Homo sapiens: one gene and its partners. The protein of the gene in region 2 purifies or fractionates together with the protein of the main gene of each other region. This does not show direct contact. Each region holds a gene or a part of one and is shown on either strand. Other genes may lie near its edges.

What was found.
Region 1: the proteins of NRP1 (region 2) and CSNK2A2 purify together in Homo sapiens (affinity purification with mass spectrometry; 6 studies listed by BioGRID and IntAct, with this or other methods). This does not show direct contact.
Region 3: the proteins of NRP1 (region 2) and KDR purify together in Homo sapiens (affinity purification with western blotting; 7 studies listed by BioGRID and IntAct, with this or other methods). This does not show direct contact.
Region 4: the proteins of NRP1 (region 2) and UBR2 purify together in Homo sapiens (affinity purification with mass spectrometry; 4 studies listed by BioGRID and IntAct, with this or other methods). This does not show direct contact.

The regions. Positions count from the first base shown.
Region 1 is NC_000016.10:58,195,107-58,203,508, reverse strand, and holds the start of CSNK2A2 (casein kinase II subunit alpha'), read left to right. Parts: upstream 1-5,402; 5' UTR 5,403-5,772; coding exon 5,773-5,876; intron 5,877-6,600; exon of another isoform or gene 6,601-6,664; coding exon 6,665-6,776; intron 6,777-8,402.
Region 2 is NC_000010.11:33,324,427-33,331,890, reverse strand, and holds part of NRP1 (neuropilin-1 isoform a precursor), read left to right. Parts: intron 1-1,008; coding exon 1,009-1,183; intron 1,184-7,464. UniProt on the Homo sapiens protein: Cell-surface receptor involved in the development of the cardiovascular system, in angiogenesis, in the formation of certain neuronal circuits and in organogenesis outside the nervous system. Mediates the chemorepulsant activity of semaphorins.
Region 3 is NC_000004.12:55,122,445-55,129,752, forward strand, and holds the start of KDR (vascular endothelial growth factor receptor 2 precursor), read right to left. Parts: upstream 3,152-7,308; 5' UTR 2,850-3,151; coding exon 2,783-2,849; intron 1-2,782. UniProt on the Homo sapiens protein: Tyrosine-protein kinase that acts as a cell-surface receptor for VEGFA, VEGFC and VEGFD. Plays an essential role in the regulation of angiogenesis, vascular development, vascular permeability, and embryonic hematopoiesis.
Region 4 is NC_000006.12:42,657,883-42,665,346, forward strand, and holds part of UBR2 (E3 ubiquitin-protein ligase UBR2), read left to right. Parts: intron 1-141; coding exon 142-251; intron 252-357; coding exon 358-438; intron 439-763; coding exon 764-942; intron 943-1,773; coding exon 1,774-1,973; intron 1,974-4,301; coding exon 4,302-4,395; intron 4,396-5,375; coding exon 5,376-5,537; intron 5,538-7,464. UniProt on the Homo sapiens protein: E3 ubiquitin-protein ligase which is a component of the N-end rule pathway.

The DNA of each region.
Region 1 (8,402 bases), on a different chromosome or scaffold from region 2:
ATTCTGTTGCCCAGGCTGGAGTGCAATGGCACAATCTCGGCTCACTACAACCTCCACCTCCCGGGTTCAAACAATTCTCCTGCCTCAGCTTCCTGAGTAGCTGGGATTACAGGTGCATGCCACCACACTCAGCAAATTTTTGTATTTTTAGTAGAGACAGGGTTTCACTATGTTGTCCAGGCTGGTCTCAAACTCCTGGCTTCAGGTGATCCACCCACCTCAGCATCCCAAAGTGCTGGGATTACAGGCATGAGCCACTGTGCCCGGCCATAAGTGTGTATCTTTGAGGTGGGTGAAGGATGTTATTCTGCTTACCACAATTACTTGTACAACTTTTCTTTTTGGGACGGAGTTTCGCTCTTGTTGCCCAGGCTGGAGTGCAATGGTGCAATCTCAGCTCACTGCAACCTCTGCCTCCCAGGCTCAAGTGATTCTTCTGCCTCAGCCTCCCAAGTAGCTGGGGTTACAGGCGTGCTTCCACCATGCCCAGCTAATTTTTTGTATTTTTAATAGAGATGGGGTTTCACCATTTTGGCCTCAGGTGATCCACCCATCTCGGCCTCCCAAAGTGCTGGGATTACAGGCGTGAACCACCACACCTGGCCACAAATTTTTAACACGTATTTATTTATTTATCTATTTATTTTTGGAGATAGGAGCTTGCTCTGTGATTCAGGCTGGAGTGCAATGGCATGACCATAGCTTACTGCAGCCTCGAACTCCTGGGCTCAAACAATCCATCTGTTTCAGCCTCCTGAGTAGCTAAGGCTTGCACCAACATGCCCAGCTAATTTTTTAAATTTTATTGTAGAGTTGGGGTCTCTCAGTGTTGCCCAGGCTGATTTCAAACTCCTGGCCTCAAGAGATCCTTCCACCTCGGCCTCCCAAAGTGCTGGGATTACAGGCGTGAACCACCATACCCAGCTCTCCTATTTAAAAATCTTGTGTCCTAAAATTTGTCCATTGCTAAAAATTCCTCATAATCATGCTTTTTAGTAACGCCTAATAGTTTCACTGTAGGGAATGTATCACAATTTATTTAGCTGGTCCCCCAGCTTGTGATATTTACATCACTTTACATTTTCATGATTAAAGATAATGATTATCATGCGGAACGTCTGTGGGCCTTTGCATGACATACTGAATCAGAAAGGGGTTAAGGAAAGTGACGTGGTGGTCAGAAAGATCAGAGTTCAAATCCAGGCTCTGCCTCAGTTGGTCATTGTCATTGGAGTCTTGGTTTCCTCCTCCGCACAAAGGGGACCCTTACAAGAGCTCCAACCTTATAGATTTCTAAAAACAGCTATGTTGAGATAAAATTCACATAACATAAATCCACCCATTTAAAGTCTAAATTCAATGGTTTTTAGCCATGTACGGTTTTGGCGGGATTCAATGATGTAGAATCATTATGTGTGTGATGAACACACAAATTGCCATCATGATCAATAATTCTTTGTTCATAATTTTCATTATTTTGTTAGGCTAGGTTCTTGAGAAGTATCGATGCAGGATAAAAGCCTATAAACTTCTCAAATGTTTTGAAAGTAGGCTTGTGAAGATAGGTGGCCTTCAGTGGGATTTTAAAATGTGCTTTTGTTTTTTGGATTTTTGGTGTTTGGATAGAATTTGGGGGCATTGGAGGTGGTATGAAAGTGTTGGGTTATTTGATTCAAAATACCCTCTTTCATTCCCTTGTGTTGCACCACTGAATTATACTCACCCTCAAACTGCACACACAGAGTAATGAGGGGAAGTCACTTCTAATTCACGGACCCTCCCTGCCTGGCACCTCCCCCGCAGAGTCACCACCCTATCCCTCTTCATATCCAAGTGAGACTCCTTCGGTGAGGGTTGCATGAGTACCATTTCCAATTGCCCACCTTAACTCAAGCCACGCCAGTTTCATGGCGGGTGGGCAGAAATGAGAGGCAGGGGTCTCTGCCAATTCCATGGGGTGCCCACCCAACCTCCCAACAAACCACAGAAATATTCCATTTGGCTGTGGGTGGACTGACTGCAGGTTTTAGGGCTGAGTTAGTATGGTGTCAGCCAAATCCAGGAGTGTGTTGCACCAGAGTGGTGTGTGGGTGAATCCTCAGGCATCCCGCAGGTGTGGGATCAGGTTACGTGAGATGGGTGTGGGCTATGTGGTGAGGGATGAGAGGAAGGTGCACGGAGGGTGGGTGGGGTCAGAGGTGGGCGAGGGTGGAGGTGAGGAATGAGGCCCCAGCTGAGGTTGGACATAGTAGTTAAACCAGTGGTTTGGAATCATTTTTGGGTCATGGCCTCCTTTGAGAATCTGATGTATGCTAAGGAAAGAATGGACACACACACACACGCACATGCACACACACACACACACACACAAACCCACAAATTCTGCATATTGTGTCAGGGGTTCCCAGAACTGGGGAAATTCATCCAAGGACTGGCATTAAGAATCTCTGGTCTGGTCTAGTTCACAGGGACTTGTCAGAAACAAATCCTAAAGCTGCATTAAGAGCTTGAGGATATTTATGTCTTCTAGAGTGAAAGAGATTTAGAAAGGTTTGCAGGTTCAGGAATTAAATTCCAAAGTCCACTTTTTCCATTAATTTTTTTTTCTAGTTTTTATTTTGAAAATTTTCAAATTCTACCAAAAAATTGCAAGCTCATGTACTGTTCAACTACATTCACTAATTATCAAAATTTTCCCCCAATTCCTCCCCACTCTATGCATGCTTATGCTCTCAGAAACCCACATTTTCCTGGAGAACAATTTGAGACTAAGTTGCAAATATTGATTCTTCATCTCTACACACTTGGCATGTAACTCCTAAAATTATGGGATTCTCCTGCATAACTAAATACAATGATCATACTCACAAACTTTAACATTGATACAATATAACGTTGTGTAATATACATTAACATTGTGTAATATACATCCTATATTCAAATTTCCCCTGCAGTAACCTTCTATTAGGTTGGTGCAAAAGTAACTGCGGTTTTCGCCATTACTTTCAATTGAATTTCAATAACTTTTGCACCAGCCCAATATGAGCTGTATTCTTTCTCTTTCCCTCCTTTCCTTTCTACTTTAAAAAAAAATCCAGACTCTAATTCAGAATCATACACTTCATCTAATTATGTCTCTAAGTCTTCAGTAACAAGAATACGAATCTAGGGTTTCGTTTGGTTTTCTTTCTCCTAGTGACATTGACTTTTTGAAGAACTCAGGCTAGCTGTTTGGCAGAATGTCGCCCAGCTTGGATTTGTCTGATGGTGTCCTTATCATTAGATTCAGGTTAAATGTTTTGGCAGGAGGACCACATGGGGGAGGTGTCCCTTCTCAGTGCATCACATCAGAGGATCAGTTGGTTCCCTACTGATGAGAAGTTTGGACCATGGGTAAGGTGGTGACCTCGTTTCCCCTTGGTAATTCCTAAGTCATCTGTGGGGTAGCACTGTATTTACTGAAGGTCTCTGACTGTGGCAAATGCTGGGAGAGTCAGTGGTGAGCGCCCACACTCTGTCCTTGCTCTTGTGCTGTTTTTACAAAGGAGGGGACAGACAATAACCCAGGAAACAAATAATGACAAGATATGCAGTTTGATGAAGGACGTGGATAGGGTGCTGAGATAGAGAAGTATCAACTCTAGAGAAAGTGATCTTTAAGCTGAGACTTGAGCTGGAGGCATGCCTGTAGTCCCAACTCCTCAGGAGGCTGGGGTGGGAAGATCGTTTGAGCCCAGGAGTTCTGGGCTGTAGTGTGCAATGCCAATCAGGTGTCCACACTAAGTTTGGCATCAACTATGATGACCTCCTGGGGCTGGAGGACCACCAGGTTGCCAGGTGGCAAACAGCAGGTCAAAACTCCTGTTCGGATCAGTAGTGGGATCATGCCTGTGAATAGCCACTGCACTCCAGCCTGGGCAATATAGAGACACCCTATTTCTAAAAAAATACTACTAATAAAGAAAAAGGTGAAATTTGAATAGGAAAAAGGAGACACCCTTGGGAAGGTGGGGTGGAGGGGTTGGGGGTGGCTCCTAGTTAAGCTTGGAGGATAGAAGGAACCAAAAGACGGATGCACGGTGGTCTCAGGGAGGGAGGAATGAGCAGAGAAAGGCCCTAGGCCTGGAAATAATCATATTGAACACATGCTATCCTAATAGTGAACACCATCCTAAGTGTTTCACATGGTTTACCTTGTTTAATTCTCCTTGCAGCCCTGTGAAGTGAGCGTTATTACTGGTTTTATGCTGTAGAATCTGTGACACAGAGAGGTTGAGTAATTGCCCTAAGGTCACACAGCTTCTAAGTAGCAGTGCTGGATAGATCTGACTCCACAGACTGTGCTCTTAGCTGTGTCAAGCAGGAAGGCCCAGGGTTTCATCCAGAAAACAGAATGTGAAAAGGGACTGGAATGAAAGCAACCTGTACTGGGTGCAGAGGTGCTGTCGATAAAGGATGAGGGATGGGAAAGGAAGACAGAAGAAAGGCCTAGAAGATCAAAGGAGAAGGGTGTTCAAGGCTGCAGGCAGCACTGGAAGCCAGGCCAGCTCAGTTGACCACCTACTCTGGGCACATCCCCAACCCAGCCTGTCCCTTCAGGTCGGATTTGCAATTCTCCTGCTCTCCCTCCTCCTAAACACAAACAGGAGATTTACACTCTCAAAGTCTCTCCCCACAAATGACTTATTAATCACAAAGGGAAAAATTGTAACTTTGCAGTGGCACAACCTGGTCAATGCCAGCTTAACCAAGTGACCAAAGTGGATATTCAGGGAAGGCTCTGGAAGGGCATTTGGGGGAAGTGTAGAAAGGTTTTGTGAGGAGCACTCTGAATGACGGGGGTAGGAAGCCTTGGGGACTGAGGAGTCTACCCTAACAGGGCAGGGTCCAGAGGGGGAAGGAGGGGTATGTCTCGGGGGAAGGGAGAAGTATTGAGGTGGGGGAGGTTCTGAGGTTTGAGTGAGGCCCTGGGGAGGGACTTGACAGTTTGGGTGACAGGAGGGTCAGAATAGGGTCAGTATGGGATGTGTTGGGTGGGTAAAAGCTGGGTGAGTGCAGGGCTGGGGATAGGGTCTCCAAGGACAGTGAAAGGGTCGGGAGTCGCGGGCGAGGGCTCTAGGGCAACGGCCAGTGGAAGGGGGGGCTCCTGTGGCGTGAAGTCAAGCCAGCCCGAGGGTGAGGCGATTTGGACAGTCCGACCTGTGGCGGCGGGAGGGCGAGGGTGGCGGAGGGCGCGAGGTAGGCGGCGGGGCGTGCCGGGGCGGGGCCGGGGCGGGGCCGGCACCGCCCGGCGGGTCCCCCCGCGCTCCAGGGGGCGCTGTGAGCCTGGGCGGCCCCAGGCCGGGCGGCGGCCGCTCCCAGTGAGCGCGGCCCCTTTTCCGGGTTTCCTCCGCCTCCTCCTCCTCTCCTCCTTCTTCTCCGCTGCCGCCGCCGCTGCCCCTTTCCCGGCCGGTGGCTGCCGCTGCCGGTGCCGCCGCCGCCGCCTCCTGGGGGCCGCGAGCCGAGCGGAGACCGCCGCGGAGCGCGAGCGCCGCCCGCCCCGCCGCCCCGCCGGCCGCTCCAGGGCCGGGCCGGCTCGGCCGGCGCCCCCCGCGCCCCCAGCCCGCCCGCCCCCGCGGGCCCGGCCTGGCGCGGCCGCCCGCCGCCGCGCTCCTCCTCCTCCTCCTCCAGCGCCCGGCGGCCCGCTGCCTCCTCCGCCCGACGCCCCGCGTCCCCCGCCGCGCCGCCGCCGCCACCCTCTGCGCCCCGCGCCGCCCCCCGGTCCCGCCCGCCATGCCCGGCCCGGCCGCGGGCAGCAGGGCCCGGGTCTACGCCGAGGTGAACAGTCTGAGGAGCCGCGAGTACTGGGACTACGAGGCTCACGTCCCGAGCTGGGGGTAAAGCCGTCGCCGCCCCCCGCCGGGCCCGCTGATCCCTGCCCCCGCCCGGCCACCCCCTGCGAACCGCACTCGGGCCCGGTGGTGTCTCCCGCCGACCCCTCCGCGGGCCCGCAGGGAGGCAGAGGTCCCGCTCTCGCACATGTCCTCGTCTTCCTCTTCCCTCCCCTTTACCCCCGTTTCGTCCCTTTCTCCCCGCTTTGCGCACCCCTTTCCCCCAAGGAATGCTTTTTTACTCGGGGAGAAGTGTGGGGTCCAGGGATCGACGCCGGGTGGAAGTGAGGGAGCTGCCCTTCCTCACACTTCTGGGTTTCCACTGGGGTGGGAAGTCAACAGCTGTCCTTTGGAGCTATTAAAATGCCCTGCCTTTTAGGTTTTCTGAGATGAGGTGGTGGGAGGAAATTTCTTAAAGACGTCCAGATTTTTAAAACAGGCATTGTCTACCTTGAAGATGTGAAACGAGAAGCAGGTGCTGGGGAGCCGCGGGGCACAGGGGGCACCCTCTAGGCCTTCAGGACGGGTGCTTTGCTCGCCCCTCTGGATTGGCTCAGAGCGTTGCCTTCCTGCCCCATCTTCCCAAGTTAGGAGAGACCAATTAGGTTAGGAGCTCTGCAGAGTGAAGGGAGCCAAGATTATGTCGTGGCTTTCATTTAGGGAATGAGTTGTGACGTGATGTATAGACACTTCCAAGTGTTTGCCTGGTGGAAGCGGCTGAATGACGTGTACAGTGGGCATAGGCTTGGTTAACCCCCAGTCCTGGCATTTATGTGTGTGTCTTCCTTTTACAGTAATCAAGATGATTACCAACTGGTTCGAAAACTTGGTCGGGGAAAATATAGTGAAGTATTTGAGGCCATTAATATCACCAACAATGAGAGAGTGGTTGTAAAAATCCTGAAGGTGAGTGTCCTATGAGTGGTATGTAACATTTTCCTCCCCACAGGGCAAAAGTTTGTAAGGTACCCCAGTCACATTCTATAATGGGCAATGCAAGCTTGAATTTAATTTAATTTATTTGTTTAGAGTCAGAGTCTCACTCTGTCACCCAGGCTGGAGTGCAGATCATAGTTCACTGCAGCCTTCAACTCCTGGGCTCCAGTGATCCATCTCAGCCTCCCAAGTAGCTGGGACTACAGGTGCATGCCACCACGCCCAGCTATTTTTAAAATTTTTTTGTAGAGTCAGGGTCTGGTCATGTTGCCCAGGCTGGTCTTAAGCTCCTGAGCTCAAGCAGTCCTCCAAAAGGACTCCTTGCAGGCCTCCTATAGTTGCTGGGATTAGAGGCGTGAGCCACTGTGCCCAGCCGACGCTCAAATTTTATTTATCTGATGTCCCTTCATTACTTCTTTTTCCACCCCATTTTCCCATGAACTTTCAAGAAAATGTGCAGACATCACAAATCTAAGTTCAGTAAAGTGTTTGTTCTAAAATGTAAATTCCCTAAAGCAAAAATTCCAAAAGGGCTCCGTTTGTTAGAAAATAAATAGGTAATCAAAAGACAGAAAAGCCACTCTCAATTTAAGGGCTCCCTGAGCACTGTGTTTGTTACTCTTGGTGCATGCTGTATGTTATTCCAGAAAGAAAGTTGGAAAAAATTGGAGCGACTTCAGAAATGTATTTCAAGCCCAAGTGGAAGGAAATTCCTTAGCGGATAATCACTTGTTTTTTTCCTTTGGCAGTAAAGTTTCAGGTGGTATGGATACAGTGCACCAGTAGTGCTGAGAAGCCTTGTTGGGAAGCCAGAGAGCCATTGTTGCTTATAAGCTAGTAAAAATATAGAAGAGTTCATGTATAATTACTAAAGTAATAATTGGAACAAAACTATCTTAATATATGGTTTAGCAATGAATTTGATAATGATATGACGTTATCTCTTTGATGAAGATGATTTTAATTAGCATGAAGGGTCGGCTAAATTTTCCTTCTGGTAACTGATTGTGTAGCTTTAATAATGTTTTATAGGGTATAGTAAAAAGTAGTTCTTAGAATCTGTGATGGGTCCTCGTTATTGCCGGATCATTTCATGTGGATACAAGTCATTTAGTGAGAGATTGAGAAGACCGAAGAGTGATGTAAGCACTTTGCATACATGTGATTTCCATTGTGGCCCTTTTGCAGAGGTTCTGTGGACTAGAAAAGCTGTGGTATAGAAAAGCTGTTTCTGTGTGCTAGGGCAGCTGGTATAGGTAATCCCTGTTTAATGTGAGGGGTCAGGCTTATGCTTTCTGGTAATCATCTTTCAGAAAAAATGATTAACTCCATCACTCAAAACATCCTAGCCTAGTGATAAAGGAGCAGAATTGCAGTAAAGAGAAAAAGCAAAGTTATTTGTGTTCTCAGACACACTGGGGCTGAGAAGTGAGGAACTGATGTTGAAGATACTGAGTGTGACTCCTCTCTTCCCTAAATATGAATTGCATTTATGAAGTCACAAGGTGGTTTTTTTTTTTTTTAAGTCACAGGAAAATTACCTTAGAAAGCCATACATTAGCTTTATGTACATAAGCATAAGTTTTCAATAAGCTG
Region 2 (7,464 bases):
TTATATAGTTTATGCACCGAATTTTTATTGCTCAAAATTAAGCATCAATAAATGTGGCAGCATTTCAGGCTGAGGTGCTCCAGTATGAAATCCATCATAAAATGTGACAATGAGAATCTATGCTGAACAATATAGGCAGCCCAGAGACTGGTTTACTTGGTTTATTTGGCTTCACTTGAGCATTTTTGAAATGAAGGCTCAAAACTACTTAGCTCACCTTTCCCAGAATGTGAGAATGTGGGTTACCATATGTGATACCCAGACCTGTGTGGTGGGTTATTTTTCACCCAACATTTAGGTAATTAGAATTAATGCCATGTGGCTATTTACTTTTCCTTCTGCCCCGTTGCTTTGATCCGATCTCCAAGCTTGAACAACTTTACTTGGAGAAGTAAAGCAGAATTATTTCTGCTTCACCAAATATACTTTGTTCTCTGTTGATTTGGATCTCAAGAGCAGAGATAACTCAAAATCACTTAGATTTATGGGCAGATAAAACAACAACAACAAAAGGTTTGGCTTTAAGCCAATCAAAGACAATCCCCACTGATCAATGACATAGACCAGGCTTATCATCAAAAAACAACACAAGGGGTCGAACAGCATCTTTCAGTCACTTTCCACTTAGAACTTGCTACTTAATGTGATTACACTTCTTGGGGGATAATTAAGTCTAGCAGAAGCTCCCAGGGGACCATGTTAACATCAATTGAGGGGATTTAATGTTTTTAATGCTAGAAGACCTTTTCCTTAGGAAGAAACTTCGGGGCTGGGGGGAAGAGTCCTCTCAGATCTCAGTTGGCTTTCTGCCTGAGTCAACCTTCCTGAGATCAAAGAGTGTTTTTTCCTGGAGTGTTGCACTCAGAGCCACACGAAGGACTTACGGGGACCTTTTAGAGTTCCCCTTAAAAAGTTAAGGAATGTTTAATAACCAGTAATTTACATATAAAGCTAGATTACCTAACAGGTTGTCAGGAAAGATCTGCTAAAATCTTACTTTCATTGCAGATAAATGTGGCGATACTATAAAAATTGAAAGCCCCGGGTACCTTACATCTCCTGGTTATCCTCATTCTTATCACCCAAGTGAAAAATGCGAATGGCTGATTCAGGCTCCGGACCCATACCAGAGAATTATGATCAACTTCAACCCTCACTTCGATTTGGAGGACAGAGACTGCAAGTAAGTGGGAATGTTTTTGAACAGGGCACCACAGCACCATCTAGTGGTCACGCCTGTCTACGGGGGGGAAGTCGGTGTGTACAATGTAGATTATAAATGGATCCAGGAGGGATTCCAATCTCAGCCAGATTATATGTCAATGGTATGGAAATTGAAGTACGTTAAGTGATTTCTGAGTTCCCCAAACCAGGAAGATTATAGTTAAATGTGTAAGCTCTTATACTCCTTCCTGTTAGCACTTTTGGTTTGGGAACTCTTGTTAAGAAATGTATACAGTATGTATGTTTCTTTTTTCTTTCTTTTTTTTTTTTTCCTGGAGAGGGGAAGAACTAGAAACTCAAAAATCTCACTTGTATTTTTACGAAATACAGTGGATCACTAATATACATCGCATCCACAGATAGTGTGATTGGAGATCTCACTATTTGAGATATATTGAACTGTGGCACATCTTATGATTTAAGAACTGCATTCATCTTACTAAGTAAGTTTGACATGGAAAAAGCAAATTGAATAAAATAAGGCCTACAGGATAAGCCAGATGAGGGGTTTTGTAAATGGTGGATTACTGATTAAAATACTTTTATGGAAAATGCTAGAAAATAATTGTTAAGACACGATGAATACAATGGGAACTCAAATACACATCAGTGTTTCATCCACCTGCTTAGTCTTGCTATCTCTTTCTATTGTTAAGTTTCTAAACATCAACTTATGCCCAATTTCGTTATTATGAAGACATTCTCACTATAGAGACAGTCGAAATTATATTTCCTCACTTTATGTGAAAGAACTGGTATGTGGATATTGCTTTCCACAGTATCGAAAGTATGTTTTTACCTTGCACGTAGCAGTCCACTCAGATACATGTTTGCTCGTCTCTCTTAACACCCAACAGACCCCCTGTCTCTGTCTTGTCCACATTATCCCATTCTGACCCACTGAAAGTGGTGTAGTCTCCAGAGACTTGAACCTGAATATCCATCTTTTAAGTTTGTACATATATAAATAGTTTTATCAAAGAAAAATAATCGATTTAAATCTCAATTCTAAAGTGTTTCTCAGGGACTGAGAGGTTTTCACAAGTTTTAAAGTGGGTCAGTTTGGTGTAACCGTATATGATATCTACAGACTACTGCTACCGCTGGACCTAAATATTATTTTGCAAGTATATTCATTGTTAAAGACAGTCTATTTGAACACACATTTCTTTTGGGAAAGAACAGAGTAATATCAAAATCTTCCTACCTGTAGGAAGTGCTCGACAACCTGTTGAGTTGGTTTAGTAAACTAGCTTTTCATGGTCAGAGAGATGAGGTCATTTGGTTCATTCAACATTTTAGTATCTAGAGAATTAGCATAAATCCACAGGCTGATGACCAGTTTCCAAATAATCAGTGTATACTACAGTGCAACAAAATTACACCAATTCCAATTTATCTTTGCTTTGTGATTCAGAAGTGCCTCAGGGCATTATATTGACTTTTTAATTGTGTATGGAAGTTACCATTAATAGTGTTCCAGTGACTGCTTGGAAACAAAGAGTTCATTGTATTGATTTATTTATTTTTGCTAATATTCTTTATGGTGGTTTTTACAGTGTCAATCACCTAGACAATCTGGAGACTTGTTTTCTTTTATATTTGATTTACTTCATTAGTAGTAGCAGTAGTTATTAGTATTTGCTTTTTGACCATGTTTAAACTGCTATAGGAGAAACTCTGGTAAAACATACTCAAGTAATAACATTATTCCAAAAAATAAAGTGCTGTTAGAATTCAATAAACTGACGTTTACTAATTTCTAATCTGGAAATCATGACCATCAATACGTGTAATATAATACTTAAAGAATTCAGAATAATCACTAGTTATTGGCAGTGATGTGGTGGTAAATGTTTAACAGCTGGCTCTTTGGAGAAGACGAGTCAAGTCCTCATTTGTATGTAGCACATGCCAATTTCTGTGGTGTAAATACTCTCATCATAGCCAATTTCAAACTAACCATGTGATGTCACTGTGCCCAGACTAGCAAAGAAATGTGCACAGTTGGTTCTTATGAGCTGGTGGGCGCCAGATCCAGCACACAACTGGAGTAGAAATTTAAGAAGGGAAGCCAGTTGAATCACTTAATATATGTAAAGGGCTTACAATTCTATTTGCACATACATTTCTTCTGGGAAAGAACAGAGTAATATAAAAATCTTCCTACCTGTAGAAAGCGCTCAACAACCTGTTGAGTTGGTGTAGTAAACTAGCTTTTCATGGTCAGGGAAATAAGGTCATCTGGTTCATTCAACATTTTGGTGCCTAGAGAATTAGCATAAATCCATAGGCTGATGATCAGTTTCCAAATAATCAGCGTATACTAATTATTACAACAGCATCTCACAGTATTACAATGGTGTCTAGCTCACAGTAAACCTTAAATAATGATTTGTCATATCATGGTGTCAGGTGGGGTATAATGGGATTAAAGGAGCACCTTTTTGGTTAGTTTTCTTTTTAAAAAGTACATTAAAAGATGATTGTAATTCACAGAAAATGACAGTTTTAGTGATATCAGCAAAGTATTTGAGAAACTGACATGGCCAAGAAGATGTTACATAACAATCTTAATAATGGTGACTTTGTTTGTTTTTTTAATGCTACAGAGTAAGGTGATTTCTTAATTGTCCCAACTGAGGCTTTGCTCTCTGTGAAGGTGTCATCTCCTGGCCAAAGCTGAAAGGCTGTTATATTTAGCCTGATGAAGTCAATGGAGATTAGATCCATGGAAAATATCTTCCTGCTGTGTTTTGAAGTGTTGCATTGTGAGCTTTTTATCAATGAGAAACTCCAGAAAGATATAGGAAGACCAGCATAAGGCATTCCTTTCACTATCTTTCTAAGCTGATTCATATGAATGACTAGTGCTCAGTGTTGAAGGGTGCATTTGAGATTCTACAAATGTGGCAAAATACTTACCTCCTTTTGTGAAGGCTTTGAGAAGAATCCACAGATTTAAATTTTACAGGGGATTGGAATGCCCTAGGGGGAAAAAAAAAACCTGGGAACACCAGAAATTATTTGAAGAACAAATTCATAGACTTCAAAGTTTAGATTAGATTCCTACAAACATAGTTTTGTTATTAGGGTTTTTTTGTACTTTATATCAGGCTATTTACAAAAATGGATTGGAGGTGGCACAAAACTAGGCACAGTTAAAACCACATTCTGAAAGCTGGTGAGCTTTTAGTTATCACTCTTGTTAAGAACAAACTATTCATCTTATTTAAGACATTTAATATTTTTCCTTGTTCCAGCTTCATTATATGTCTGTTGGCAGTAAAAAACATTTGCTATGCTGATGTCATAGGGTTACTAGTAGGATCAAGTAGTAGATAGGAAAGCCTTTTTAAAAGGTAAAAGTGACCCTCAAAATAAGTTATCATTATTATGATATCTTTAACAAGTTGGTGATTTTTAGAACATTTGGAAATATGAAACTAAACATACGTCAAAACTAAATCTATTGACCCAGTAATGAGATGATTTGCACATGATACACCCTGCATTTTCTCTTGAAATGGTCAGTATTTGTATAGTCAACTTCCACCCTGAGAAAGCTTAAGAAATCGATGCCTTAGCACATTTGCTTATTGTGAAACATCTTTGAAACCCAAGTAAACAGTTTTCTTTTGTAGAGTATAGGGATGGTTAAGTCATTAGACCAGCTACATAGTCCTGGTAGAAAAAAAAAAATTTTTTATTTAGATTTTTATTGTTTTATGTATAATTAGGTAAAAAACATCATTTCATAATCTTAACAATACAGTATACAGTCACAACTTCTCATGTGAATAGCACCAAGACTGACCCAGTTCATGAGTTAATTCTGGATCATACTTTGCAAAATGGTGAAGTTTTTGCAGTGGCTGTCAAAGGTGGATACTTCGTTAGGAAAATTAAATGTGTAAGTTGTGCCTCCATAGTTTTAACATGCAACATTCTGTGTCTATGCCAGCACTGAATGAGGTTTCATTACAAATAAGCATCAGAACCATAATACTATAACCCCTTAATTCTTTTATTGAACAAGATGTGGTGTAAATCAGTCGATCAACAGACCAGTGGAGCGTCTGTCTGCAGGGCTAACACAGAACTAGGATTTTTTCCCAGCTATATATATGCATGATTTTATTATTAGATTGAGAGGATTCTAGAGAATGCTCTGACCGAAGAAGGTGTTGAGGGAGAGGAAGGAATGTTGATTTCTTTTTTGCCAGCAAAATCCTGCACACTTGTGAAGTGTCAAAGCATAATTAAAAATAGAAAAGAAATAAAGAAGTGACCAGTGGAGAGTTTTCGGAAACACATGTTCATTGCACATTGAAAATGGTTTTCAGTATGTACATCGAACTAGTTAGATCTTACTCCACTAAAGTTTTCTTCAGTGGTAAGGCAGACATCTTGAATCTCATAAAAGTTTATATCTGTATAATAAACAAGAATGTCATTGATATGGTAGTTAGAATTTATGAAACTTCTCCAGTTTCCCAGCAATGCACACAATCAGCATGATAATTTATAATGGTTTGTGACAAATACTGCTGAGCAAAGAGGTGTATGGTTACATTCAGATCAGATGTCACCATCCGGGGAGCAATAAAAATTTCACAGACATTGGGTTAAAAACATTAAGGAAATGAATGCAAAGCTCTAACAAAAGTCTAAAAAGGTGGTAGCATTGGGGGACTCAAACCCAGTAGTGCTTTTCCTACTGACAAGAAGAAAATCTTACTTACCGACTTCAGTGTCTGATTTGACAGTGCTGTTTCATATCATGGCACAGTTGCTTTTTTCAACTATGATTTAGATTTGTAATCTCTCCTCTGTGTAACCAACAATAGGCATGTTTTTCCTAACTCAGTGCGTTCAAAGGAAGATCGCATACTTGTAACTTCGTAAGAAGTTTAATCATAGTGAAATTATAAGCAAATAGAGATGATATTCGTTTCAGAATTTTGTTGGGATAATTCAGATATTGTTCCTTTAATGCTAGTTTTTAAATTACCTAAATTATTAAAAACTTTGAAACAGTGCTAATGTCTTTTATTTTCAGAGAATATAAACTTATGGAATGAAAAATAATCTGCCCTTGGTTTCTCAAATCTGATTATTCCCGCACATTTACATTTATTCCTGCACATTTACACTTATTGGCATTTTTTGGAGTGTAAGTTCCATTTTCTGTTTTCCTGAGTAATATGAGTAATATTTTCTGTTTTAATCTTTCTTTATTATTACTAGCATGGATTTTTTAGGATTAATTTGGATTTTTAAAAAATGTTACATTAAAATACTATTTATCTTAATCACTGAGTTTTTGGCTTTTTGTATCCAAGGGAAGTACCTCACTCTAGTCTTGTATTTTAGAGCATCACTTAGACTAAAACAAAATCCTTGTTTTATGGAAAACTGAGTTTTTTAAGCCAAACTACATCTCTATTTTCCATATGAAATAGAGAAGAATATATACCTTTAGTAAAGTATAATATATATTTAGAAAAATACACAACCCAAGTATAAGATTTGATAAAATTTTGCAAGGTGGATACATCCACAAAACCAATCTAGAGGCCAACATTTCCAGCTTCCTAGAAGCCCTCTGATGTCAGTTTTAGTCACCAACCTTTGCCCTCAAGGGCAACTGCTGTCCTAACTTCTGTGACTTCATTTTTATACATTTCAAAATCAGGTAAAACTCAACTAGAGTCTTAGAAGTCTGTATGTACAGGCCAGGCACGGTGGCTCACTCGCAAACATTGGGAGCCAGAGGCAGGCATCACTTGAAGTCAGGAGTTCGACTGAAACCAGCCTGGCCAACATGGTGAAACCCCGTCTCTACTAAAAATACAAAAATTAGCCAGGCAAGGTGGTGCACGCCTGTAGTCCCAGCTACTCGGGAGGCTGAGGCAAGAGAATGGCTTGAACCTGGGAAGCGGAGGTTGCAGTGAGCCAAGATCCGCACCATTGCACTCCAGCCTGGGCAACAGGAGCAAAACTCCGTCTCAAAAAAAAGAAGCCTGTGGGTACTATCCTTGAACATAGACAGTGAAAGTCTTTGGAGTGGATATAGAAAAAATAGGTACTATTTCTAATCAAAAAGCAGAATCCTACTGATGCATTTTCTAATTTTTTTCAGTGGCTACTGATGGAAATATCTTGTCTTTGTTTCAAACTTTTCAATCTGGAGCCTGCTTTATTATGCAGATTTTATGTGCAAGCAAATTCAGAAAC
Region 3 (7,308 bases), on a different chromosome or scaffold from region 2:
GCAAATAAGAGAGTATGAACAAATAGGACGAAGTATGAGACGGAATAAATAGAGAGAGTATAAGTAAATACCCAGTGCAAACATCCAGTGCATTGAATCTGAGGATCCCAATATGAACAAATGCAGGCAAAATGAATAAGTGACTGCACATGTTCTCACACACCACACAGATGTGCAAAATAAGTTACTGACATAACTGGTCAATATCATGGTTTTTAAGTCAATAATATGGTTTTTAAAAAACTGGAAACTAAGTTATATCAATATATCTCAGAAATTAACTGGCATTGGTACTGACTTATGTTTAGAACAGTTTTGTTCTTAAGACTTTAGACTCTGTCAGAATATCCCTGGGTCTACAAATCTGCATTTTAACAAGCATTTCAAATTATCCTACCACAGATGGTCTATGGGCCACTCTTGGACAGTTGCTGGTCTGGGTGGTCATGTTTAATTAATTTGCACAGTACTTTGTGCGTGGAACGGGGGTTACATTTATGTTTTAAATAGAGAATGGGGTCTCGCTATGTTGCCCAGGCACTTCTTGAACTCCTGGACTCAAGCGATCCTCCTGCCTCTGCTTCCCTAAGTGCTGGGATTACAGGAATGAGCCACTGCACCCAGCCTGCACAGTACTTTTTAATATGAAAGAAATAACTGCCCCCAAAACAGGCAAACAAAAAACCAAAATGTTTAAAAGCAAAATGAAACCTGGAGTCCCACTTTGTCTAAGAAAAGGAAAATGAAAACAATTCATTTGGATAACACAGATTTCAAACTTGACTGGGGAACACTAGGTTGAGAAAGATGCTGAAAACATGATGTACAATTCACACTGCCATCCAAATGAGAAAAAAACCATTATTTGGGCACATTCTTGTGAGAAAACAAATGGCAGTAAAAATGATTCTCAATAAACTGTGCCCACTCGGCTACCAAAATCAGAAACTCTTGAAGGTCTCTCATAATTTATTGCCACAGATCACATTCTAGACACACTTTCCTGTGTAACAAATATTTTAAAAAAGAAAAGGTATGTCCTTCATTCATAGGAAGCTGAGACTATGCCATACTATTCTAGAGACACGTTTACAACAAAAATCTATTCAACAAGGCTCTCAATAACTTCAAATTCATATTTGTAGACCAACATAGTTTTTTGTTTTTTGTTTTTGCTCCATTAAATGTCATTCGTTTTCATTGGCAAGCTTGAGCTGGACTCTTCAGAAAGTTCTAAAGAAATAACTGTAAGAGGTACACATGCTACTACTCAATAAAAAGCCCTTCTATGTTCAAATCCCATAACCAATATTAATTAATTTGTGCACTGTTACCCTTCCAGCTCAAAGACGGGAAGGAAAAACAACAGTGCCTCTGTCTCTAGAATTTGATGGCACCAATTACAGCCCAATCCAATTAAGCAAGTAATGCACTCCAAAAGGGCAAGTTCACCATTATATTCAGGGCGACCGGCCTGCCGTTACTACTACGCTAGGAAACACCCCAGGCTTAAAAGCAACTCACTTCTTTGTGGAATACAGAGCAACCACATGTTCCAGACCTTCATTCTCTGCCCAGAAAGGGGGAGAGAGAGGGCTTGTCTGGGACAAATGAGTGTCCATGGTGGACTGGACCCGTTGAACCAAGTCATTATAAAGAAAATTCAGTAACCATGGACAGATGATCCTGGTACTGTATGTGGGTGTGAGTGTCTTCTAAGACATGTGATTCTTGTCTTAGGGAGTAAGAAATTTTTTTCCCTGAATTATTCGACTTTTTTTTTTTCTTTCTCTGACCCTTTCCCCTTTCTCACCCTGCAAAGGGTGGAAATCTGGATATCAGCAAACTGGCTGCAGGAAAGAAATATTATCTAAGGGGTTGAGAGAGAAAGGAAAGTGAGGAAGAAAAGACAGACAGCTATTGCATGAAGAACGTGTGTGTTCCTAATTGAAGGAGACGGAAATTTTAGGCGGCAGGGAGAGGAAGGAATGGCACTAAAGCTAGGTACCAAGGCCCACAGGAAAGGTTTTCGGAGCTTGAACTTCTGACTATGCGCTTACACCAAGGACCACAGCGCTTTGAAAGATGTGCAATGCTTTACGCAGGACAGTTGGCTGTTACTTGGAGACCCTTGGGGAAGCTGTCAAAGCCCCCAGGACAAGTCCCTATTCCCCCCCTTCTTCGCTCTGCAAGGAGAGCGGCGTCCTGCACCAAGGAAGGAAAAAAAGTTTCTCTCCGCTCCAGACCCCACTTCACACAGTGGTGTGCAAGTGTGTTCGAGCATGAAGACAACAACGGGCCGGGTCCCGCAAAGAGGCAGAACCGAGTGTACCGTCCGATCCGGGAGACCCGGCCTGAGATTCCGGCAAGGTTTTCTTCCCCGGGCCCGGACTAGGATGTTGCGCGCAGCCAGACAACTTTTCACCGCCTGTTCTCGCCTGCGGAGGCACCTCCTGCCTGCCAACCCCAGGCGCCTTCCCACCCCAGCCTCCCAAGAGCCTGAGGGTGTGTCGGCATCTCAGGACATGCTCCAGCCGAGGTCCCTGTCGCAAACCAGAGTCCTAGAAAAGGAACTGGGCTAGAGCACAGGCGACCACAGACTCGCTGGGTAATCTTGGGCCAGTCTCTGAGCCTCAGTTTCCCCACTGGTAAATGAAAGATCGCAAAATGTCAAGTCCTGTCCAACTCTCCAGCTCTACGATTCCGAGTTAGATCTGGCTTTCAGGTCCTCTCCGCCCTCACCCGACCTGTCTGCCTTCCTCCTCCAGAGTGGGCTCCTTACCCACAGAGGCGGCCCGGGTCTCCACGCAGAGCCACAGGGCGACGGCCAGCAGCACCTTGCTCTGCATCCTGCACCTCGAGCCGGGCGAAATGCCCAGAACTCGGGAGCCGGTTCTTTCTCCCAGCGCCTGTCTAGAGAAGGAGGCGCGGAGGTGGAACTCGCGGCACCCCGCAGCGCAGGACAGTTGAGCGCACAGGGCTAGGGAGCCCGGGCGCCGACCGCGGCTGCAGGGGCGTCTGCGGGTGCCGGTAGGAGAGGATATCCAGGCTGCCAGACGGACTTTCTGCGGCGCGCAAGTGATGCCCGGCGCAGGCAGAGGAAACGCAGCGACCACACATTGACCGCTCTCCCGGGGTCCCGGGACTCAGTGCAGGGTGGGAGCTGGTGCCGAAACTCTAGAGCGCGGAGGCGGGGCCATGCGGGGCGGGGCCGGAGCGGAGGAGGGGCTCTCCCGTGCGGCCAGCCCCGCCCCTCACCCGGGTACCCGGCGGCGATCTCCAGCTCCCCAAGCCCATTTACATCTCCCCATTTCCCCACACAACTGGACTGCGCTGGGCCCCAAGTCGCCCAGGAGAGAACATCCCAGAGCAACAACTTTGTTTCTGGTGTAAATAAAAAGTACTCGGTAACGGGCGCTGAGCAACTCCAAGATTTAATCGCTTGCCGGTCCCCGAAATTTGGGGAGCATCACCAGGAGCGCTGCGAAGAGCAGCGCTCCCTCACCAGGCGCGTCAAAGTGCAGGACCCTCTTCGCCATCGCGCGCGTCTGAAGTGGCCGAGAATCTGCAGCAGTTTGGAGCCACAAGGGAGAAGCGGATACTCAGCCAAGTATGCCGGGTCGCAAGCTGGCAGCGACTCCTGCCAGTAGTTTTGGTTTTTGTATAAGGGTATTTTGTTTGGCCAGTATAATTGTAGTTTAAAAAGCTGAATCTGGTTGCTCTTAATCAGAAAACGCACTTGCCCAGTTCGCCAACATTCCCGCTATTTCCCAAAATATTTGGCGGCTCCAAGTTTGAAGTGACCTGCCTAGCCCCAAGAAGGCTTTTGTCCATCGTGCTCCCCAACGAAGAGCCCTAGTGAAAGTTTGGCCATGCCCCTTTTCAGAGCAGAGCTTCCAGCCAAGATATCCTTAGTCCCAGGGGAAGGAGGCCAGCTGCCAGCGTGCTTCAGTGGAGGAGCAATGAAGCAAAAGCACCTAGGACACTCTGTGACCAAATTGCACAACTGTCTCCACGTGTGTGGACTTCTTGTGGCAGCTGTTTGGAGGGGAACTCCAATTCCTTCCTGACCACATTCGTTCCTTCTGGTTTTCTGTCCATATCTCCCCACACCTGGGGAGTGACATCAAATGTCCCCTAACTTCATTAAATATGAATCTTCCAGATGCCTATGTCTTTTACCTCCCAGAGGTGCTTTTTAATGACAACCTAAAGGACCATTCTTCACCAAGATAAACACACAGAATTATTATATCTACACCTAATTCAAACTAGATTGATTGTATACAATTAATGTAACCTGTTACTTATCTTCATCTGTTTTTAAATATTTACTGTATTCACGCTTTTACTTTTCCAAGTTGACAGGTGAAATATTTTAATGCTGAAATATAATGAATGTATATGGCAAAAAAAAATTTTGGAAAAACACAAAAAGGCTTAGAGTGAAAAGACTTTTCTTTTGGCAGAGGCATTTTTATGTTTCCTTTTTTTTCCAAGCAGATTCTTAAACACAAGTATGTAGACATGTCACCCTTCTCTTCCCACAATTGCTTGGTATAAATGCTATTTGAGCCTTGGCTTTTTTCCCTTTAAATTTGATTTATTTATTTGAGACAAGGTCTCACTATGTTGCCCAGGCTGGTCTCCAATGCCTGGACTCAGTCCATCCTCCTGCCTCAGTCTCCCAAAGTGCTGGGATTACAAGCACGAGCCACCCTGCCCAGCCTTCACTTTATAATATACACTGGAGATTCGTTCTACATCAACCTTTAAAGCTCCATCTTTTATTTATTTATTTATTTATTTATTTATTTATTTATTTTTATATAGAGGCAGGGTCTCACTATGTTGCCTAAGCTGGCTGCGAACAAAGCTCCATCCTTCCATCTTTTCAATGTTGGCATAGTGCTCTACTATATAGATGTACTCATATTTATCTGGGAGGTATTTATTTGGGGAGGGGAGAGAATCTTTAAAGAAACTCCTCTCTTCCTGCTAGTAAACTCAGCAAATAAAATAGGATGGACTCTGGCAAAGTTGGATAAAGGGGTGGGAGATGGAACCTGGTTTGGAGAGGGCAGTTTTTCTCCATCCCCATCACCAAACAATTCCCTATCAGCCTTATTTACAGTTCATGACACTTCCTCTTCCATGTCTCATTTAAGAAGATAGTGTCTCCTCTGAATGCAAACCAGAACCTGCAGGCCCGTGGTAATAGCCCCCTTTAGAAGTCTTGGAGGAAATGATGCGTCTTTGATGGCCGCAAGACCAGAATTTGGCAGAGTCTCAATGAAATCAGTCTACCACATTCCCTCCCACACAGCACTTAGAAGTGCCTTAGGTTCACAAAAAAAATGGCAAAGTCTGTTAAAAAAAAAAAAGATAGAAAAGAAAGAAAGAAAGGCTGTTCCATGTGCAGCACCCTCTCGTTATCTGGCATTGCAAAGGAGTGACTTTTGTGAGTTAACCCAACAGTAAGGCACCTAGCAAAGTGCCCCAAATGTGTTGAGTGTTCCATAGATGCTATTCAGATGCCACAGCAGAGTAGTAGCTAAGTGCACAGACTCTGGATTTTATTCCCAGATCTACCGCTTATGATCTGTGTGATCTTTACCAACTTACAAGTAACTTATCTATGAAACACAAAAAAAATTATAATAGTACCTTCTTCATAGGGTTCTTACAAGAATTAAAGGAGTTACTGCATGTAAGGCACTTGGAGTAGGCCCCAACACAGCTAGTAAAGATCTTGGACATAGAAAGCACCAGATACACATTAAGAAACATTCTGCAAAGGTTGCTTATACTACAATGCATGGGCTTCTTCATGCTGCTGAGATCTAAACTGCTAAGCAGGCTCATTCATTCAACAGTTTTTGAGCACCTACTATATGCTAGGCATTGAACCAGGAACTGGGGTTACGATGGTGAAAATAATGTCAAGATGAGCTTAAATGAGGAATCATTGTAATAGCCTCACCCAAGACAAATTTAATTTAATCTTTAAGCACTTCTTGTCTCCAGCTACTTTTCTGGGCTTGTACATACAGAATATACATTGTTCATACTCAAAGCACACTGCATAAATTACTCTCCATGATCTCCAAATTTGGTTACATTACCAACAGTATTTTGGACTCCATGTCTTAACAAGTTATATGAAGATTTGTCAAAGGTTAATAACTGTGGAAGTTCAATTGCTTCAAAGAGAATAAAATACCCAGGAATCCAACTTACAGGGGATGTGAAGGACCTCTTCAAGAAGAACTACAAACCATTGCTCAATGAAATAAAAGAGGACACAAACAAATGGAAGAACATTCCATGTTCATGGATAGGAAGAATCAATATCGTGAAAATGGCCATACTGCCCAAGGTAATTTGTAGATTCAATACCATCCCCATCAAGCTACCAATGACTTTCTTCACAGAATTGGAAAAAACTACTTTAAAGTTCATATGGAACCAAAAAAGAGCCTGAATTGCCAAGACAAATCTAAGCCAAAAGAACAAAGCTGGAGGCATCATGCTACCTGACTTCAAACTATACTACAAGGCTACAGTAACCAAAACAGCATGGTACTGGTACCAAAACAGAGATATAGACCAATGGAACAGAACAGAACCCTCAGAAATAATACCACACATCTACAACCATCTGATCTTCAACAAACCTGACAGAAACAAGCAATGGGGAAAGGATTCCCTATTTAATAAATGGTGCTGGGAAAACTGGCTAGCCATATGTAGAAAGCTGAAACTGGATCCCTTCCTTACACCTTATACAAAAATTAATTCAAGATGGATTAAAGACTTAAATGTCAGACCTAAAACCATAAAAACCCTAGAAGAAAACCTAGGCAATACCATTCAGGACATAGGCATGGGCAAGGACTTCATGACTAAAACACCAAAAGCAATGGCAACAAAAGCCAAAATTGACAAATGGGATCTCATTAAACTAAAGAGCTTCTGCACAGCAAAAGAAACTACCATCAGAGTGAACAGACAACCTACAGAATGGGAGAAAATTTTTGCAATCTACTCATCTGACAAAGGGCTAATATCCAGAATCTGCAAAGAACTCAAACAAATTTACAAGAAAAAAACAAACAATCGCATCAAAAAGTGGGCAAAGGACATGAACAGACACTTCTCAAAAGAAGACATTTATGCAGCCAACAGACACATGAGAAAATGCTCATCATCACTGGTCATCAGAGAAATGCAAATCAAAACCACAATGAGATAGCATCTCACACCAGTTAGAATGGCAATCATTAAAAAGTCAGGAAACAACAGGTG
Region 4 (7,464 bases), on a different chromosome or scaffold from region 2:
GAAAATCTCTATTTTGGTAGAGCCATAATCAAATTATGGGCAATAGGTGTTATAAGCAACTGCATTTATGTTCCTGTGCGTAGGAATAAGTACTATGAAGTATTAGCTATTGTTATTGTGCCTTTTATTTTTCTGCCGTAGAACCTGGTGAAGCGCCAAAAAATTCTCCTAGCATACTAGCTATGCTGGAAACACTACAAAATGCTCCCTACCTAGAAGTCCACAAAGACATGATTCGGTGGATATTGAAGGTAAAATTTCCACATTCCTCTGCTTTTTGTGAGAAATATTGAATATTTGTTATGTGTACATTGTGATCATATTTCATACAGGATACTGATACTTTTTTTTTTGTAGACTTTTAATGCTGTTAAAAAGATGAGGGAGAGTTCACCTACCAGTCCCGTGGCAGAGACAGAAGGAACCATAATGGAAGAGGTATAAACAGTAAAAAGTGTGATAATACTAAAAAATTACAGCAAGTTCAGTATGAACAAAATAAATTTATCTACATTAAGTTGCCAGTTACTCACAACATTTAAATTCCAAGAAATATGCCACTATTTATCTCTATTTGTTGTAGCAATTTTTTGTCTGCTTTTTTTCTTTAAAACAAGTCAGTTTAAGAGTCTTTTCTCTTATTTAAATAAGTGAGATTATAGAATAGTTTTTTAATTGGTATTTACAGTGAAGATATTTCTGCTTTGGAAAAAAATGTGCGTTTTAGCATCTAATTGTCTAATTGAATGGAGCATAATTTCAGAGTTCAAGGGACAAAGACAAAGCTGAGAGGAAGAGAAAAGCAGAGATTGCCAGACTGCGCAGAGAAAAGATCATGGCTCAGATGTCTGAAATGCAGCGGCATTTTATTGATGAAAACAAAGAACTCTTTCAGCAGACATTAGAACTGGATGCCTCAACCTCTGCTGTTCTTGATCATAGGTAAAAAAAAAAAAAAAAAAAATTAATGTCTTGACGAGTTTTTCCCAACTAGGGGCAGTGTTGCGTTTTCTCCTTGTAAGTATACTTTTAATCCTAAAGTAATTTAGTAGAATTCATAGGTAAATTTTGTGACCTCCATTTAGAAGATTTAATCTTAGAAGTCTCTGAATGTAGGTATGGTAAGTCCTGTGTACACCTGGTAGGGTATTTTCTGCAGAAGACCTTGGACATTCATGAAAGAATGAGTACACTACACTCAGTTACCTAGAGCGTATGACATCTGTGTTGAAGATTAGATTACTGTGAGGATTAAAGGAGATGGTTTTGATACATACCAAAGACTTGACAATCCAAGTTATCAAAACCATGTGTTAAATATATACATTCCTGGCTGTGCGTGGTGGCTCACGCCTGTAATCCCAGCACTTCGGGAGGCCAAGGCGGGCGGATCACAAGGTGAGGAGTTCGAGACCAGCCTGACCAACATGGTGAAACCCCATCTCTACTAAAAATACAAAAAAAAAAAATTAGCCGGGTGTGGTGGTGCATGCCTATAATCCCAGCTACTCAGGAGGCTGAGTCAGGAGAATTGCTTGAACCTGCGAGGCGGAGGTTGCAGTGAGCCAAGATTGTGCCACTCACCCCAGCCTGGGTGACAGAGCAAGACTCTGTCTCAAAAAATAAATAAATATATATACACACACACACACACACACACACACACACACACACACACACTACACACACACACACATACCTGTAGTCTGCTATTTTGTGATTATATAGAAAGTTTTGGGATCATTAATTATATTCATAACCTTTGTATTGCAGCCCTGTGGCTTCAGATATGACACTTACAGCACTGGGCCCCGCACAAACTCAGGTTCCTGAACAAAGACAATTCGTTACATGTATATTGTGTCAAGAGGAGCAAGAAGTTAAAGTGGAAAGCAGGGCAATGGTCTTGGCAGCATTTGTTCAGAGATCAACTGTATTATCAAAAAACAGAAGTAAATTTATTCAAGATCCAGGTAAGTCATAGCTAGATCCTCATCTTCCCTTTTAATAACAACTGCCAGTTAATGTGGTTGGTGATACGTTGAGATTTTTTAAACCTAAAAATAACTCCATGGACTTGGATGGTATCTTTGGCAGGTAACTTAGGCAGGAATTCCCCACTTGGCAGATGTGGAACCACTCCAGAAAGTTGCACCTGAATCACATAGCTGATAAATAGCAGGGATTCAAAGAAAAGCTTTTCTTTGTGATGTAACATTACATACTTTGGCATTTCACAGTCTTTTCCATCCTTCAGTACACTTGCAAAGTCCTGGTCATTTGTTGACACACTGAAATAATAATTGTTTTGTCTTATTGATAGAGCCTGAGTGGAATCTCCTGAGAACAGTGATGGAGAGTTACCTATGTAAGAGGCAATCCTTGAGCCAAATTGTTTTAGAATAGTAATACCACCACAGATCGGGTTCCCCAGAAAGCAGATTCTTGGGATACAGATTACCGTGCAGGACAGTTGAGGGCCCTCTTTCAGCAACTGAGGGAGTAAAGCAGGGAGATCCAGTCCGCACATGATTTTGTCCACCACAGACACATTTATTTCTCTGCTTGTAGGTTGTGCTCTGTGTGCGTGTGCTTCAGCGATACCCAGTAAACTTCTTGAGAGTAGGAACTGTGTCTTGGGAATTCCCAGAGCACTGCTTTAACCAGTGCCTTTCACACTGCAGCGTGAAAGGAGGTTTGAGAGCCCACTTTTAGAGTTGCCTTCTCTCTGTAAAGAAAGTCTTTGCATCCTACTTATGAAAGGTTGGTCTGCTTCATCTTTAAAAATGGTCATTTAGGCTGGGTATGGTGGCTCATGCCTGTAATCCCAGCACTTTGGGAGGCCGAGGCAGGTGGATCACCTGAGGTCAGGAGTTCAAGACCAGCCTGGCCAACATGGCGAAACCCCATCTCTACTAATAGTACAAAAAAAAAACTAGCCAAATTTGGTGGCACGCGCCTGTAGTCCCAGCTACTCAAGAGGCTGAGGCATGAGAATTGCTTGAACCTGGGAGGCAGAGGTTGCAGTGAGCCGAGATTGCACCACTGCCCTCCAGCCTGGGCAACGGAGCGAGACCCTGTGTGGTTTTTTTGTTTGTTTGTTTGTTTGTTTTTAAAAAAAAAAAAAAAGGCCAGGCGCAGTGGCTCATGTCTGTAATCCCAGCACTCTGGGAGGCCAAGGCAGGCAGATCACAAGGTCAGGAGATCAAGACCATCCTGGCTAACACAGTGAAACCCCATCTCTACTAAAAAATACAAAAAAAAATTAGCCAGGCGTGGTGGCAGTTACCTGCTACTCGGGAGGCTGAGGCAGGAGAATGGCGTGAACCCAGGAAGCAGAGCTTGCAGTGAGTCGAGATCGCGCCACTGCACTCCAATCTGGGCGACAAAGCGAGACTGTCTTAAAAAAAAAAAAGATATTTAAACTAGGTGCTTTATAAATTTCATTCCAGGCCAAAGACAAAGTTGCTAATTTTATTTAACTTATTACTTCTGAAGAAAAAGCATTAGCTGGCTATAAGTGGATTTTCTTAATGCTTTGACATTTGCACTGTTCTAGTGTTAAAGCAAATTAAAACTATTAAAGCAAATTAAAAGTAGTTCTTTCTAGAGTGTTAGGAAATTTCGAAGATTATACTAATTTATATAAAGAATTCAAAAATTCCAAAAGAAGCCAGACATCCATCTTGTTTTTCATGATTTTTCATCCCCTTTGAATATAAAAATTAGCACCAGGACAGAAGACTCTGAATTACCTTTTTTCCCCCCATCTGATCTGGTCTGTGCTTAGATTTTTTGTTGTCACTTTGGCTCTGATGTGATTATTCGCTGTATGAGTGTTGTTAGGCAGTCTGTCCTCTAGGGGGCGCCCCGTTACTGCCAAAACATTTTTTATTAGCGATCATTTTAACCCAGCTGCCCTGAACGCACATAAGGCAGCCCCATGAAGAGAGTAGCTCTTTTACCTGGAGCTCAGGGTACAATGGGAGGAATTGGAATATCTCAGCACCCTGAAAGTGTGAAATGTTCAAAAGATTGGATATATTTAAATTCATAGTTCTAATTTCAGTTTAACAATTTGAGAATGTTTAATTAATTTGCTGTGGGTGGTGAAAATTAGAGAGTCCTACTTTCTAAATAATCCAAGGTGTTGCATAAATTGGTATCTCAGAGGAATAAACTAGCATTTCATTTCAAATTTCAAGTCTTTATCAAGGATTTTACAATTTAAAGTTACACATTTGTTATAGGAAAATTAAATGCTTCACTTTTGTTTTGTTTTGTTTTGTTTTGTAATGCAGAAAAATATGATCCATTATTCATGCACCCTGATCTGTCTTGTGGAACACACACTAGTAGCTGTGGGCACATTATGCATGCCCATTGTTGGCAAAGGTAATGTATATTCTTAATATTTGTCAAGAGAAGTTTATCTAAGGGCTCAATATTTTTTAAATAGAGGAAATTTCATTCTAGAAAAAAGGAAAAGAACTAAAAATGTTGAAAAAATCCGTATCATTGCCTAATAAATAACAAAAGTTATTTGCCTTGTCATAGATGTAAAGTGTATGTCAGATATGTTTTTTAATTTAGCTTTATATCCAAGTCTCTTCTATATCTTCCAAAGAAGGAAGTGGATCTGTATCAGTCTGTGGATGAAGAAAAGGGTTTTTACAGTAGGATAAACTCTAGAAGGGTAATGTTGTCTTTCTTTGGGTCCAGGGTGGACAACTTTTGATTCCATAGATGTTAGTACTTGCTTTGTTACTTCCCAAAATTGTAATGGCTCCCTGTGATGAGATGTCCTGAATTTGTTCTACCTTGGTGTTTCCTATGCTTCTACAAAACCAACAAATCAATAATACTATTATTCTAGAACTATGCTCACCCAGTTATCATGAACTACCCCTAACAACTAGCCACCACATTGTAGTCCCAGCTACTTGGGAGGCTGAGACAGGAGAATTGCTTGAATGTGGGAGGTGGAGGTTGCAGTGAACCAAGATTGTGCAACTGCACTCCAGCCTGGGCGACAGAGCAAGACTCCATCTCAAAAACAACAACAACAACAAAAAAAAAACAAATAGCCACCAGCCTTGGGGAAGTGGCAAGAGAACAATGACACCAAGAAATTTTTGTTGCTGCTTTGTGAATGCTTTTTTACATGGCAGTCTTTTTTTTTATTTTACTCTTTTAGAACTTTTAATCCATTTGGATTTTTAAAATCACTCAAAAATCATGTTAAAAATAATTTAGTTTAAGATTTTCATTTTTGAACTATTTGTGGAAACAAATTATTTTAAATGTTGAAGCTTATGGCTGTCATTTATGTAAATTACCATTGTTTTGATACCTCATGTTCTCTAATTGTAAAGGTATTTTGATTCCGTTCAAGCTAAAGAACAGCGAAGGCAACAGAGATTACGCTTACATACGAGCTATGATGTAGAAAACGGAGAATTCCTTTGCCCCCTTTGTGAATGCTTGAGTAATACTGTTATTCCTCTGCTGCTTCCTCCAAGAAATATTTTTAACAAGTAAGTTTTGGCTCATGACAACTATTACAAAGCAATAGTTTGCTTTGAAGATAATGAAATAATAAATCAAGGAGGAAAACTTAGTCTAGGCAATTGCATAGTGTTTTCCAGATACTTTCCAAACTCTAATCATTTTCTTCTAGCAGACCTGTGGAATGTGATTTTAGTTTTTAGAGAGGAACAGGTGAAAATTTAACAGTTTCTAAGCTATTAAATTCCTATGTATTTATGAAAACCAAGTATCTGGTTTATTTCTAGGGACCCTACTTTTAATATCTTCCATACACTTTTCAAGAGATGCTCAGTAAACTGGTAGAGGGAGATGGAACAACTCAAACTGACTTTATAGGACAGTCTAAAAATCGAATAAAACTTTTTGCTGTACTGGCCATTCATAGTTTTAAGAACCAGGCAAAAAAGTGAAAATCTGTTGGTATATTTTAAATGGAAAAATCTCAGCTGGGCGTTGTGGCTCACATCTATAATCCTAGCACTTTGAGAGGCCAAGATGAAAGGATCATTTGAGCCCAGGAGTTCAAGACCAGCCTGGGCAACATAGTGAGACCCTGTCTGTACAAAAAATAAAAAGTTAGCTGGATGTAGCGGCATATTCCTATAGTCCCAGCTACTTCAGAGACTCAGGTGGGAGGCTCGCTTGGGTCAAGGCTGCAGTGAGCTTTGATCATGCCATTGCACTTCAGCCTGAGTGACAGAGCAAGACCCTGTCTCAAAAATAAAATAAGTGCTTGCTTCAGCAGCACATATACTAAAATTGGAACGATAAAGAGAAGATAAGCATGGCTCTTTCACAAGGATGACACACAAATTCATGAAGTGTTCCATATTTTTAGCTCTTTTAGAATTTGTCTAGCAGACTAAAAAAAAATAAGAAAAGAAAATGGAAAATTTCTGTAACTTCACAGTTTTTTGGATGCTTTTAGTTACGAGTATTGGACATACTCATTTCGAGTATGAATTTGATAATGTCTGCTTTTCGAATCTGAACTTCATTTCTCAATGTAGAATTATGCTATCTACGTTGCATGCACAAATACTAAGTTATGTGAGTATAAACGATCCATTTCTGTGTTATTTGGATTCAGTTCAAAGCAAAGTCAGTTTTTTCTTGTCAGTTTTAGGAGTTCAAACTTTGGTGTTCTTAGTCTATGCTACCACAAAATGTTCTTAAAATATTAGTAGATTTGAGTGTAAGCTCATGCTTTTTAATTATAAAAGAATATCGTGGTACTGACTTATCTGCATTTGAACTGATGAAGAAATTAATTATTGTTAGATGGAGGATTAACTGTGTATAAGAAGAAATCACCCTTGTTGGATTTCATCTGTCACTTTATTGGTCCAATTTTTGGGTTTTGCCCATGAGATTCAATTATGGTTTAGTCATATTCGAATACAATCATAAAAAGAACACAGGCTTTGGAATCTGACAGAGCCAAGTTTGAATGCTAGCTTTGTCCCTTATTCGGCCTTAGTCAAGTTACATAGCTCTAAACCTCAGTTTCCTCATCTGTAAAATGGGGACAATAATAAAACCTATTACAAAATATAGGAATACAACCTATGCAAATAATAATACAACCTGAAACAAAATGTAGGGATATTTTGAGGATTAAGTCTAATACCATAAGATATTTACAGTAAAATTCCTTACTAAGTGCTTGTAACATAATAAGCACTTGGTAGATATTAATAGTGATGGTGATTATGATACTTAAGAAATTCTAGCAAATTCCAATACTGAAGAGTGAGATTTTTAATACACAGTGTTATTACCATCATATTGACAAATAATATATTCCTTTCCATTGGCCAATATCCTGATTTTTTTTAATGCAACAAATTTTCCCTTATCCTTTTTGTTTTTAATATTTGGAGTGTGTCTAAAATATGCCTGTGATCATTTAAG